Linked DNA regions of Homo sapiens. The protein of the gene in region 3 purifies or fractionates together with the protein of the main gene of each other region. This does not show direct contact. Each region holds a gene or a part of one and is shown on either strand. Other genes may lie near its edges.

What was found.
Region 1: the proteins of ARPC2 (region 3) and ACTR3B purify together in Homo sapiens (affinity purification with mass spectrometry; 7 studies listed by BioGRID and IntAct, with this or other methods). This does not show direct contact.
Region 2: the proteins of ARPC2 (region 3) and ARPC5L fractionate together in Homo sapiens (co-fractionation; 7 studies listed by BioGRID and IntAct, with this or other methods). This does not show direct contact.

What each region holds. Positions count from the first base shown.
Region 1 is NC_000007.14:152,762,615-152,766,362, reverse strand, and holds part of ACTR3B (actin-related protein 3B), read right to left. Parts: intron 1-3,748. UniProt on the Homo sapiens protein: Plays a role in the organization of the actin cytoskeleton.
Region 2 is NC_000009.12:124,865,064-124,868,811, forward strand, and holds part of ARPC5L (actin-related protein 2/3 complex subunit 5-like protein), read left to right. Parts: intron 1-3,364; 5' UTR 3,365-3,748. UniProt on the Homo sapiens protein: May function as component of the Arp2/3 complex which is involved in regulation of actin polymerization and together with an activating nucleation-promoting factor (NPF) mediates the formation of branched actin networks.
Region 3 is NC_000002.12:218,248,071-218,251,818, reverse strand, and holds part of ARPC2 (actin-related protein 2/3 complex subunit 2), read right to left. Parts: intron 2,456-3,748; coding exon 2,355-2,455; intron 1,999-2,354; coding exon 1,898-1,998; intron 1-1,897. UniProt on the Homo sapiens protein: Actin-binding component of the Arp2/3 complex, a multiprotein complex that mediates actin polymerization upon stimulation by nucleation-promoting factor (NPF).

The DNA.
Region 1 (3,748 bases), on a different chromosome or scaffold from region 3:
TGCATGACAAGTCCCCAGTGAAAACCTTGGGCCCTGTGTCTCTGAGGAGCTTCCCTGGTACGGAGCATTGCACACGTGTTGTCACAGCCTGATGCTGGAGGAATTAACTGCATCCTGCACGGCTGCACTGGGTGAGGACTCGGGAAGCTTGCCCCGGTTTCCTCTAGGCTCCACCCCACATCTTTTCCCTTGGCTGTTTTTGCTTTGTACATTTTCACCGTAGTCCTGATTCCTCCTAGCAAGTCACTGGAACTGGGAGTGGTCTGCGGAACCCCTGAACAGACCTTAATACATGAAGAGCTTCTAAAAATGAAGAAGCAAAAGACCAAAACCCCAGAGAAAAGTTAGAGAAATGAAGAGACCGAAAAAAATAAATGCGAAGATTATCATAATCATGAAAGTGGGTTGTTAAAATATGAAGTTCAGCCTTCTCTCGTGCTCACAATCTCACCCACTCTTGCCCTTCCTTCTTCCGCCATGGGATGACACAGCACGCAGGGCCTCATTAGATGCTGGCACCATGCTCTAAGACTCTGCAGCCTCCAGAACTGTGAGCCAAATAAACTTTTTTTTTTCTTTTTTTAAGGTGTGCACTTTTACTGAACTGGTCTCAAGTCAGTGTACAGGTATGCCCTGGATGCCTCCACACTTCCACCCACTCCCAGGGAGACCAAAAGCCTTCATACATCTCAAGGTAGGGACAAAAATGGGGACCATGATAGCTGATTATTCAAAATAAAACAAAAAGTATTAAGGTGAAGATTTTTTTAAATGTTGCATTACATAATTTACATGAAAGCAATCCTGTAACCTCCCCTTTGTGGACTCAGGAGAGAACTGGGCCGTTCTCCTGAGAGAAGTGGGGTGGCTTTTGGGAGGGCAAGGGACTTCCTGTAACAATGCATCTCACAATATGTGGAATGACTATTTAAAAAAAAAAAAAAAAAGCCAGGCGCAGTGGCTCATGGCTGTAATCTCAGCACTTTGGGAGGCCCAGGCAGGCAGATCACCTGAGGTCAGGAGTTCAAGACTGGCCTGACCAACATGGAGAAACCCCGTCTCTATTAAAAATACAAAATTAGCCGGGCATAGTGGCGCATGCCTGTAATCCCAGCTACTTGGGAGGCTGAGGCAGGAGAATCACTTGAACCCGGGAGGCGGAGGTTGTGGTGAGCCAAGATCGCGCCATTCTACTCCAGCCTGAACAATGAAAGCAAAACTCTGTCTCCGGAAAAAAAAAAAAAAAAAAAAAAGGGCCAGGGTAAGACCCAGTCTCAAAACAAAAATAAAAATAAATAAGTAAAATAAAGAACAATGTACAATCAAGGTCCTCGGCCACACTGTAGAACTTTGGAGGATGCTCACTCCAACTAACTGCTGTCACCTTCACCATTCTATTCTTTTCTTTATAAATTACCCGGTGTGTGGTATTCTGTTACAGCAACACAAAACAAAGACATTAAGATATCATTTATTCTAGGTTGGTAATTTTACAAATTGGCAATAGGCTCTATTGGTGAGTCTGTAAGACACAGGCATCCTCACACATTACTGGTGAGAATGCACACTAATGAGTGTAATTTGACACTGCCTAGCAAAATTACATATGCATTTGCCCTTTGACCCAGAAATCCCATTTCTAAAAATCTAAGCCACAGATACTCAGGCAAAAAATACAAAAAGATATCCTTGCTTTATTTTTTCTTTTTTTTTTTTTTTGAGATGGAGTCTCGCTGTTGCCAGGCTGGAGTGCAGTGGCGCGATCTCAGCTCACTGCAACCTCCGCCTCCTGGTTCAAGCGATCCTCCTGCCTCAGCCTCCTGAGTAGCTAGGACTACTAAAATTAGCCCACCAGTGTGCCCGGCTAATTTTTTTGTATTTCTTTTTTTTTTTAGTAGAGACGGGGTTTCACCGTGTTAGCCAGGATGGTCTCGATCTCCTGACCACGGGTCGTGATCCACATCCTCGGCCTCCCAAAGTGCTGGGACTACAGGTGTGAGCCACTGCGCCTGGCCAGAATGCTCAAAAAATGAAGACATGTCTAAAGAACATGGAAGGCCAGGTGCAGTGCCTCACTCCTGTAATCCCAACACCTTGGGAGGCAGAGGTGGGCAGATCACCTGAGGTTAGGAGTTCAAGACCAGCCTGGCCAACATGACAAAACCCCATCTCTACTAAAAATACAAAAAAACAGCCATGCGTGGTGGTGTACACCTATAATCCCAGCTACTCAGGAGGCTGGGGCAGGAGAATCGCTTGAACCCGGGAGGCAGAGGTTGTAGTGAGCTGAAGTCACACCACTGCACTTCAGCCTGGGCAACACAGCAAGACTCCGTCTCAAAAAATAAATAAATAAAAAATAAAGAACATGGGAGTCAGCCTGAATGAGCTTCACTTGGCAAAATCTGGGACAATTTAAGCAATAGATAACCCACTGACAACAATGAGGACGGCATAATGGATTATCATTCTTTGAACAGAACGACAACTCATACAGACAATAAACAAATGAGGCCTATGGATAAGTTCTTCCTTAAAATAAAATGTTAACTAATAAATGGAGACAGAATAATAGAGTTCAAAAATCACCATTTTGCAACCATCACCATAATTAGTAATTCAGGCAAGAATCACCAATGGGCCAGGCACAGTGGCTCACGCCTGTAATCACAGCACTTTGGGAGGCCAAGGCGGGTGGATTGCTTGAGATCAGGATTCAAGACCAGCTTGGGCAACATGATGAAATCCCGTCTCTACCAAAAATACAAAAAGTTAGCCGGGCATGGTGGCTCATGCCTGTAATCCCAGCTACCCATGAGGCTGAAGCAGGAGAATTCCCTGAACCTGGGAGACAGAGGTTGCAGTGAGCAGAGATTGTGCCACTGCACTCCAGCCTAGGAAACAGAACAAGATTCTGTCAAAAAAAAAGAAAAAAACAAGAGTCACCAATGGATACTTAAACTAATGGATGAAAGTTTAAGAATAGAGTACTTACATAAAATATTCCCCCACAAATGACTTTTTTTTTTTTTTTTTTTTTTTTTTTTTTGAGATGGAGTCTCGCTCTGTCACCAGGCTGGAGTGCAGTGGCCCGATCTCGGCTCACTGCAACTTCCGCCTCTCGGATTCAAGTGATTCTCCTGAGCAGCCTCCAAAGCAGCTGGGACTACAGGCACGCACCACCACACCCAGCTAATTTTTGTATTTTTAGTAGAGACGGGGTTTCACCATGTTGGCCAGGTTGGTCTCGAACTCCTGCCCTCAGGTGATCCGCCCGCCTCGGCCTCCCAAAGTGCTGGGATTACAGGCATGAGCCACCGCGCCCAGCCAAATGACTTATTAATTACAAAGAAAAATAGTAACTGAACAGTGAAGAAACCTCGTGGACATCACCCTCTCCAAATGATCCAAGTGAACTTCATCAAGACTGAGGCGAGTCCCTATCTTAAGCCTTTCGATGGGATGCACTAAGAAGGATCAACAGGACTTCTGTGGTAGTCCTGACAAATATGCATATCCTGTATCTATCACAGAGAAACACTAGGTAACAACTGGCTGTCAAAAATGCCAACATCTTGAAAGACAAAAAAAGGTTAAGAAATTATTCCAGATTAAATTAGACTTAAAAGACATGACACCCACCAGATGCAATGTATGCCGCTGATGGGGAGGTCTTTCATGGGTGACATTCCATAAAAGACATGAATCCATACTGTATATAGGATACTACTGTATGTATGTTAAATTT
Region 2 (3,748 bases), on a different chromosome or scaffold from region 3:
TCAGGTGATCCACCTGTCTCGGCCTCCCAAAGTGTTGGGATTACAGGTGTGAACCACTGTACCTGGCCGGCATAGCTTAGTCTTAAATGAAAGTCTAGGCCGGGCGTGGTGGCTCACGTGGTGCACGCCTGTAATCCCAGCTACTCTGGAGGCTGAAGCAAGAGAATCGCTTGAACCCAGAGGCAGAGGTTGCAGTGAGCCGAGATCGGGCCATTGCACTCCAGCCTGGGTGACAAGAGGGAAACTCTGTCTAAAAAAAAAAAAAAAAAAAAAGGAAAGTCTAATGGTGCACAGTGCCTTTGCTGTTATATTTTTAAATGCTTAGAGTTAATGACTCTGCACATCTTTTTCGAACCTGAAGTCATTTGTGACTCTCTCTTACACGCCACATCTAGTCAACCAGTAAATTCCAGGTACTCTACCTTCAAAATTTACCCAACTTAAGGCCGGGTGAGGTGGCTCACGTCTGTAATCCTAGCACTTTGGGAGGCCAAGGCAGGTGGATCACCTGAGGTCAGGAGTTCGAGACCAGCCTGGCCAACATGGTGAAACCGTGTCTCTACTAAAAATACAAAAAAAATTAGCCGGGCATGGTGGCGGGTGCCTATAATCACAGCTATTCGGGAGGCTGAGGCAGGAGAATTGCTTCAACCCAGGGGGCAGAGGTTGCAGTGAGCCAAGATTGCGCCACTTCACTCAAGCCTGGGCGAAAGAGCAAAACTCCATCTCAAAAAAACAAAAAACAAAAAAAACAAAATTGGGACTGGGCGTGGTGGCTCACACCTGTAATCCCAGCACTTTGGGAGGCCAAGGCGGGCAGATCATGAGGTCACGAGTTCGAGACCAGCCTGACCAACATGGTGAAAACCTGTCTCTACTAAAAATATAAAAATTAGCCAGGCGTGGTGGTGTGCACCTGTACTCCCAGCTACTTGGGAGGCTGAGGCAGGAGAATCACTTGAACCCTGGAGGCGGAGGTTGCAGTGAGCTGAGGTTGGGCCACTGCACTCTAGCCTAGGCGACACAGTGAGACTCCCTCTTAAAAAAACAAAAAAACAGGTCAGGCGCAGTGGCTCACGTCTGTAATCCCAGCACTTTAGGAAGCCGACGCAGGTGGATCACCTGAGGTCAGGAGTTTGAAACCAGCCTGGCCCACATGGTGAAACCCTGTCTCTACTAAAAATACAAAAATTAGCCAGGTGTGGTGGCAGGTGCCGGTAATCCCAGCTACTCCAGAGGCTGAGGCAGGAGAATCACCTGAACCCTGGAGGTGGAGGGTGCAGTGAGCTGAGACTGTGCCACTGCACTCCAGCCTGGGCAACAGAGTGAGGCTCCATCTCAAAAAAAATGAATAAAATAAAACAAAATAAGAAATTGGTGGGGCACGGTGGCTCATGCCTGTAATCCCAGCACTTTGGGAGGCCGAGGTGGGCAGATCACCTGAGGTCAGGAGTTCAACACTAGGCCAGCCAACATGGAGAAACCCCGTTTCTACTAAAAATACAAAATTAGCCAGGCATGGTGGCGCATGCCTGTAATCCCAGCTACTCGGGAGGCTGAGGCAGAATTGCTTGAACCCGGGAGGCAGAGGTTGCGGTGAACTGAGATAGCCCCATTGCAGTCCAGCCTGGGCAATAAGAGCAAAACTCCGTCTCAAAAAAATTAAAAAAAAATTTACCCAGCTTGTTCCCACCATCCTCATTGGCCCCTGCCTGGTTGGGCTACCACTGTCTGTCCCCTGGATGGTTGCTGTCACCATCTAAATCACCTCTCTACTTTGGTTCTCGATCCCAGATGTGTTCTCAATACAGCTGCTTAGAAGGCCCTTTTCAAACAATTCAGACTTCTGATCTATTACTGTTCTGCTCAGAATTTCCAGGGCTGTCCCATTTGAATTAAGACTGAGTCCTTTCCTCGGCCTACAGAGCCCTACTCTCCTCCCAACCCCCACCTCATCTCTCTTCTGTTCCTGGCTGTTTCTCGAATATACTGAGCCCACCCCAACCTCTGAGCCTTCGCTTAGTTGCCTCCTTCATTTCCTTCCAGTCTCTGTCTAGTGTCACCTCCTCAGGGACACCTTTTTTTTTTTTTTTTTTGAGATGGTATCTCACTCCATCGCCCAGGCTGGAGTGCAATGGTGTGATCTCAGCTCACTGCAACCTCTGCCTCCTGGGTTCAAGCGATTCTCCCCGCTCAGCTTCCCGAGTAGCTGGGATTACAGGTGTGCGCCATCATGCCTAGCTAATTGTTGTGTTTTTGTAGAGATGGGTTTTCACCATGTTGGCCAGGCTGGTCTCGAATTCCTGACCTCAGGTGATCTGCCCCCTGGGCCTCCCAAAGTGCTGGGATTACAGGTGTGAGCCACTGCGCCCGGCCAGGACACCTCCTTTGATCACTTTATCTAAGGCACACTCAGGCACTGCATGGTTTTTTTCCCTCTCAACACTGTCAGCCCTGACATCGTATAATATGGATTTTTAAATTGTGTCTCCCTGGCTGGAATGAAAGTCCATGACCATGAGCTGGGACATTATTCCATTTACTAGTTTCTTTGGGGGCTGTTTCTTTACTTGTAAAATGGGCATTTCTGGGTTCAAGTTCCTTCTGACCAGGATGTTCTGGGGATATGAATTTCTGCTGTCTCGTGGCAGACCTGAATCACAAATATTTTTTCCCAGATATGGAACTGTATTGCAGGTGGGCTTTGCATGTTTCCAGGACCCCTGAGACTTTTCTTTTCTTTTCTTTTTTTTTTTTTTTTTTGAGACGGAGTTTTGCTCTTGTCGCTCAGGCTGGAGCGTAATGGCGCGATCTCAGCTCAGTGCAACCTCTACCTACCGGTTTCAAGCGATTCTCCTGCCTCAGCCTCCCGAGTAGCTGGGATTACAGGCATGCGCCAGCACGCCCGGCTAATTTTGTATTTCTAGTAGACACGGGGTTTCAGCATTTTGGTCAGGCTGGTCTCAAACTTCTGACCTCAGGTGATCCGCCCACCTCGGCTCCCAAAGTGCTGAGGATTACAGGCAGAGACTTCTTCACCACTAGTTTCCCACTATGGGAGTCTGTATCCTTACCACCGAAGATAAGGTTGCATCATAGTCTGGCAATATTTTTTTTATCTTTAGACACAGTTCAATGAGAGGTATTCGAAGCAGCAAAAATGAATCACATTCCAACTACTGACTTTTATTAAAAAGAGTACTATTAGATGAAAATAGTTTTCACACTATTATATAAAAAGACCCATTTTACTTACCCTAAGGCTAAGATCAATTAACAGAACCCCTGGGATAACAGCCCAGGCACCAAATCTGGCACCTCAGAGTCGTCCTTGACTTCCCTAAACCGCTTTCCCCCATCTCAGATTCTGAGAATTTGGTTTCTGTCAAGATGTGCCTCTCCAGCCAGGCCTCTCCTGCCAGGACGGTGGCCACAGGGCCATCTCCCTCTCCTGGCGCCCCCAACTGCCTGGCCAAGGTGACTGCTACACACGTGGGGTCGCAGAATCCCTCGAGTCACAACGTCTTCAACGTCTTGTCAGTCCCGTGATCGCACTAAACGTATTTAAAGCCCCCTACTCCTTTAAGAGGGTCACCTCTGTGTACAGGCGGCCTCCTCGTACTAAGTGTGGTGGCGTTCAAGGCTCCGAGACACAGGCGCCTCCCGCGCCACTCCCCGGGCACAGGAACTCCTACTCATCCCTCAGTCATCAGCTCGAAGGTTTCTTCTCCAAGAAGCCTGCCCGGCA
Region 3 (3,748 bases):
GAGAGAGTGTAAAGCCCTAGGCGTACCACACCCACTAAAACTTTGCCTCAAGAGTACTGAGTGCTGGGCCAGGTGTGGTGGCTCATGTCTGTTATCCCAACACTTTGGGAGGCTGAGGTGGGAGGATCACTTGAGTCCAGGAGTTCGAGACCAGCCTGGACAACATGGTGAAATCCCGTCTCTACAAAAATACAAAAATTAGCCAGCTGTGATGGTGCATGCCTGTGGTCCCAGCTACTTGGGGGGCTGAGATGGGAGGATTGCTTGAGCCCAGGAGGTTGAGCCTGGCTGGGGATCACAGAGTACTGGGCTGGGCGCGGTGGCTCACTCCTTAATCCCAACACTTTGGGAAGCTGAGGTAGGTGGATCACGAGGTCAGCAGTTCAAGACCAGCCTGGCCAATATGGTGAAACCCTGTCTCTATTAAAAATACAAATAAATTAGTGGGGCTTAGTGGCGCACGCCTGTAGTCCCAGCTACTTGGGAGGCTGAGGCAAGAGAATTGCTTGAACCCAGGAGGCAGAGGTCGTAGTGAACTAAGATTGTGCCTCTGCACTCCAGCCTGTGCTTCAAGAGCGAAACTCTGTATCAAAAAACAAAAAACAAAAACAAAACAACAAAACAAAACAACAACAGTACTGGGGTGCTGGCAAATAACACTGGCTGTGAGGGAGGCTTATGACCTCAAGACTTTTAGTTCAACTGGTACAAAAGACAGCAGATGGGAGGCCGAGGTGGGTGGACTGCCTGAGCTCACGAGTTCTAGACCAGCCTGGGCAACATGGTGAAACCCCATCTCTACTAAAATACAAAAAATTAGCCGGGCGTGGTGGTGTGCACCTGCAGTCCCAGCTAGTTGGGAGGCAGAGGCTGCAGTGAGCTGAGATCGCGCCACTGCACTCCAGCCTGGGCGACAGAGTGAGACTCTGTCTCCCCCAACACCCCCACCAAAAAACAAACAAACAAACAAAAACCAGCAAATGAACACTATTACCTTATCTTAAGGACAGGACTGCCTGAATTTCATCAGAAGAACCAAGGTCTGGCACCTTTCACAAAGATGGAACTCTCTAGGCTCTAGGCCATGCTCGCCTTTCCTGCATGCAGAGCCACACCCCTATTTAGGGCTCTCCTCAAATTTTTTTTTTTTTTTTTGAGACTAAGTCTTACTCTGTCGCTCAGGCTGGAGTGCAGTGGCACAATCTTGGCTCACTGCGACCTCTGCCTCCTGGGCTCAAGCAATTCTCTGCCTCAGCCTCCCGAGTAGCCGGGACTACAGGCACCTGCCACCACGACCGGCTAATTTTTTTTGTATTTTTAGTAAAGATGGGGTTTCACCGTCTTGGCCAGGCTGGTCCTGAACTCCTGACCCTGTGATCCACCCATCTCAGCCTCCCAAAGTGCTGGGATTACAGGCGTGAGCCACAGCGCCCGTCACGGCTCTCCTCAATTCTATCCCTGATAAAGAGAACCTTCCTCTGCATGCAAACTTCCTGCTGAGAGTGGACCAGGAAAAAGAACACTTAGTGGGGTGGTTTCAGGCCTATTTACCCAATTAAAGGTCCCTAAGCAACTTACTCCATCTCTCCAGAAAGACCACCAAAAGCACAAGACTGACCTCATAACTCAGGCCCAAAAAGAACAGTCTCTTGGTAAACTTTGTTTATTTCCTAGCTGCCATTCTCATAGCTCACAAAGATACGGAAACAAGGAAACCCATCCTGGCCTATATGGCAGTGAGAACATGGAATCCCACCTTTGGTTTATCTACTTAGCCCTGCTGACCTCATATGTAGCCAGTGCCCAGATACATGGAGGACCAGGCCACCAGCGCCCACTGCTTCCTTCTCGGTGACTCAGGAGAGGAAGGTGGTCGCTGGGGTGCTGCCTAACTTACGTGATTGTTTTCATTTCTTTTTTCTCGGCATCTGGGCGTGCGCGGTTCAGCACCTTGAGGAAGTCAGACGTTTTCGCCCGCATACGTGTGTGAATATAGGCCTGGGAACAAACATAACAGGTACTAAAGCACAGTCATGGTCTAGAAAGACAGCTTTGCTGTCTTTCATCAGAGAGGTCATCAAGGGCGGTTGGGAACATACACCCTGGGATTGACCCAGGCCCTGCAGGGAAGCAGGAAGGTGAGCAATTCTGGAAACAAATATTCATCTCTGCTATAGGGAGGGATGGGGGACAGTGGCTTGATGAAGAAAGACCATGGTTTCTTGAAGCCTCTAGAATTATTTACCTAAGAGTCAATATCCACAGCGTAGACTAATGGAATGACTTTCTGTCAGGAGTTCTGGTGGAGGAAAAGACCCAGAGCATAGAGGCTGAGATGCTGGCACCCCCCTCACCTTAGAGCACTTGATGTGGTAGTGCAGGTAGTCCCGGAACGTGTGGATCAGGTTGATGGTGTTGTCTCGAGCACTGGCATTGGTGTGACGAGGGAACAGCACTGAAGGCGGAAGACACAAACAAGGCGTCAGGACACGACACAAATGCCAAAGGGTGGGGAAGAACAACAGCCTAGTGAACATCACTCCCTCTCTGCTTAAGTACACTCCACTTGTGTCAGTATTACCAGGCTTTGTCAGGGTTTTTTCTTGACATGGAAGTTAAACAGCATGGCCAGGAAAGGTGTCAACGAGCGTGAATGGAGGAGCCCACGATGAAAAACAGGGCTTGACCCTAGGCCTTCATTCTACTCCTGAATTCTGCAGCTGTGCATTTTGAAATCTATTTCCGGTCTGCCACACAGGTACTAGCTCTTGCCTCTGCAGCTGGACACACTCCAGGATCACACTAACTGGCTGTAACAGTTTACTTTAAGGAATCAGGATTAGGAAATGCAGCTGCCTGTCTTAGGTCCTTGGTGCTGAAATAGAGTAAACCTTCCCAGAAAACAGATGCCAGAGAATTTCCCATATTCTCACTGTGAAAACAGACAATAAGGTGTAAGGACCTGAACCCTCATGATAGGCCAGGCAGGAGGAGCTGCTCTGAATGGGCCTGACTGAAGTCCACCCTGTGACACCAGCCACCTAAAGACCTGTGTGAGGCTGGGCGCGATGGCTCACGCCTGTAATCCCAGCACTTTGGGAGGCTGACGCAGGCTGATCATCTGAGATCAGGAGTTTTGAGACCAGCCTGGCCAACATGGTGAAACCCCATCTCTACTAAAAATATAAAAATTAGCCACATGTGATGGCGTGTGCCTGTAATCTCAGCTACTTAGGAGGCTGAGGCAGGAGAATCGCTTAAACCCGGGGGGTGGAGGTTGCAGTGAGCCAAGACGGTGCCACTGCACTCCAGCCTGAGTGACAGAGCAAGACTCCATCTCAAAAAAAGACCTGTGTGCTCATCACAAAGTCCTTTGCACTACAGCAGGCCTGCATGCCCCTCTTGCCCTGGTTTTCTGGAATCGTTTTTACCTGCTGCACCTCCTCTACTCACTATCTGCAAAACCCCGTCAGTTGTCTGAAGTTTTCGTTGAAATGAAAAGGAATGCCTCCTAAGGAAGTGTGGAATTTCTGTGTCAATGTGCCCTGGCCTGAAAGTAAATGAACACCACAACAGAAGACAACTATACTTCAAAGAATCTAAGGTGCTTATGACTGTAAGTCTGCCATAATTTTATGTACCACAAGAGAAACATGCTGCCAATTAAAGTGTGACATGCTATGAATTGTAAGATGCATCCCAGCTTCAAAGACAAAAACTTGAAAAAAATGGTATAGCTGGCTGGGCG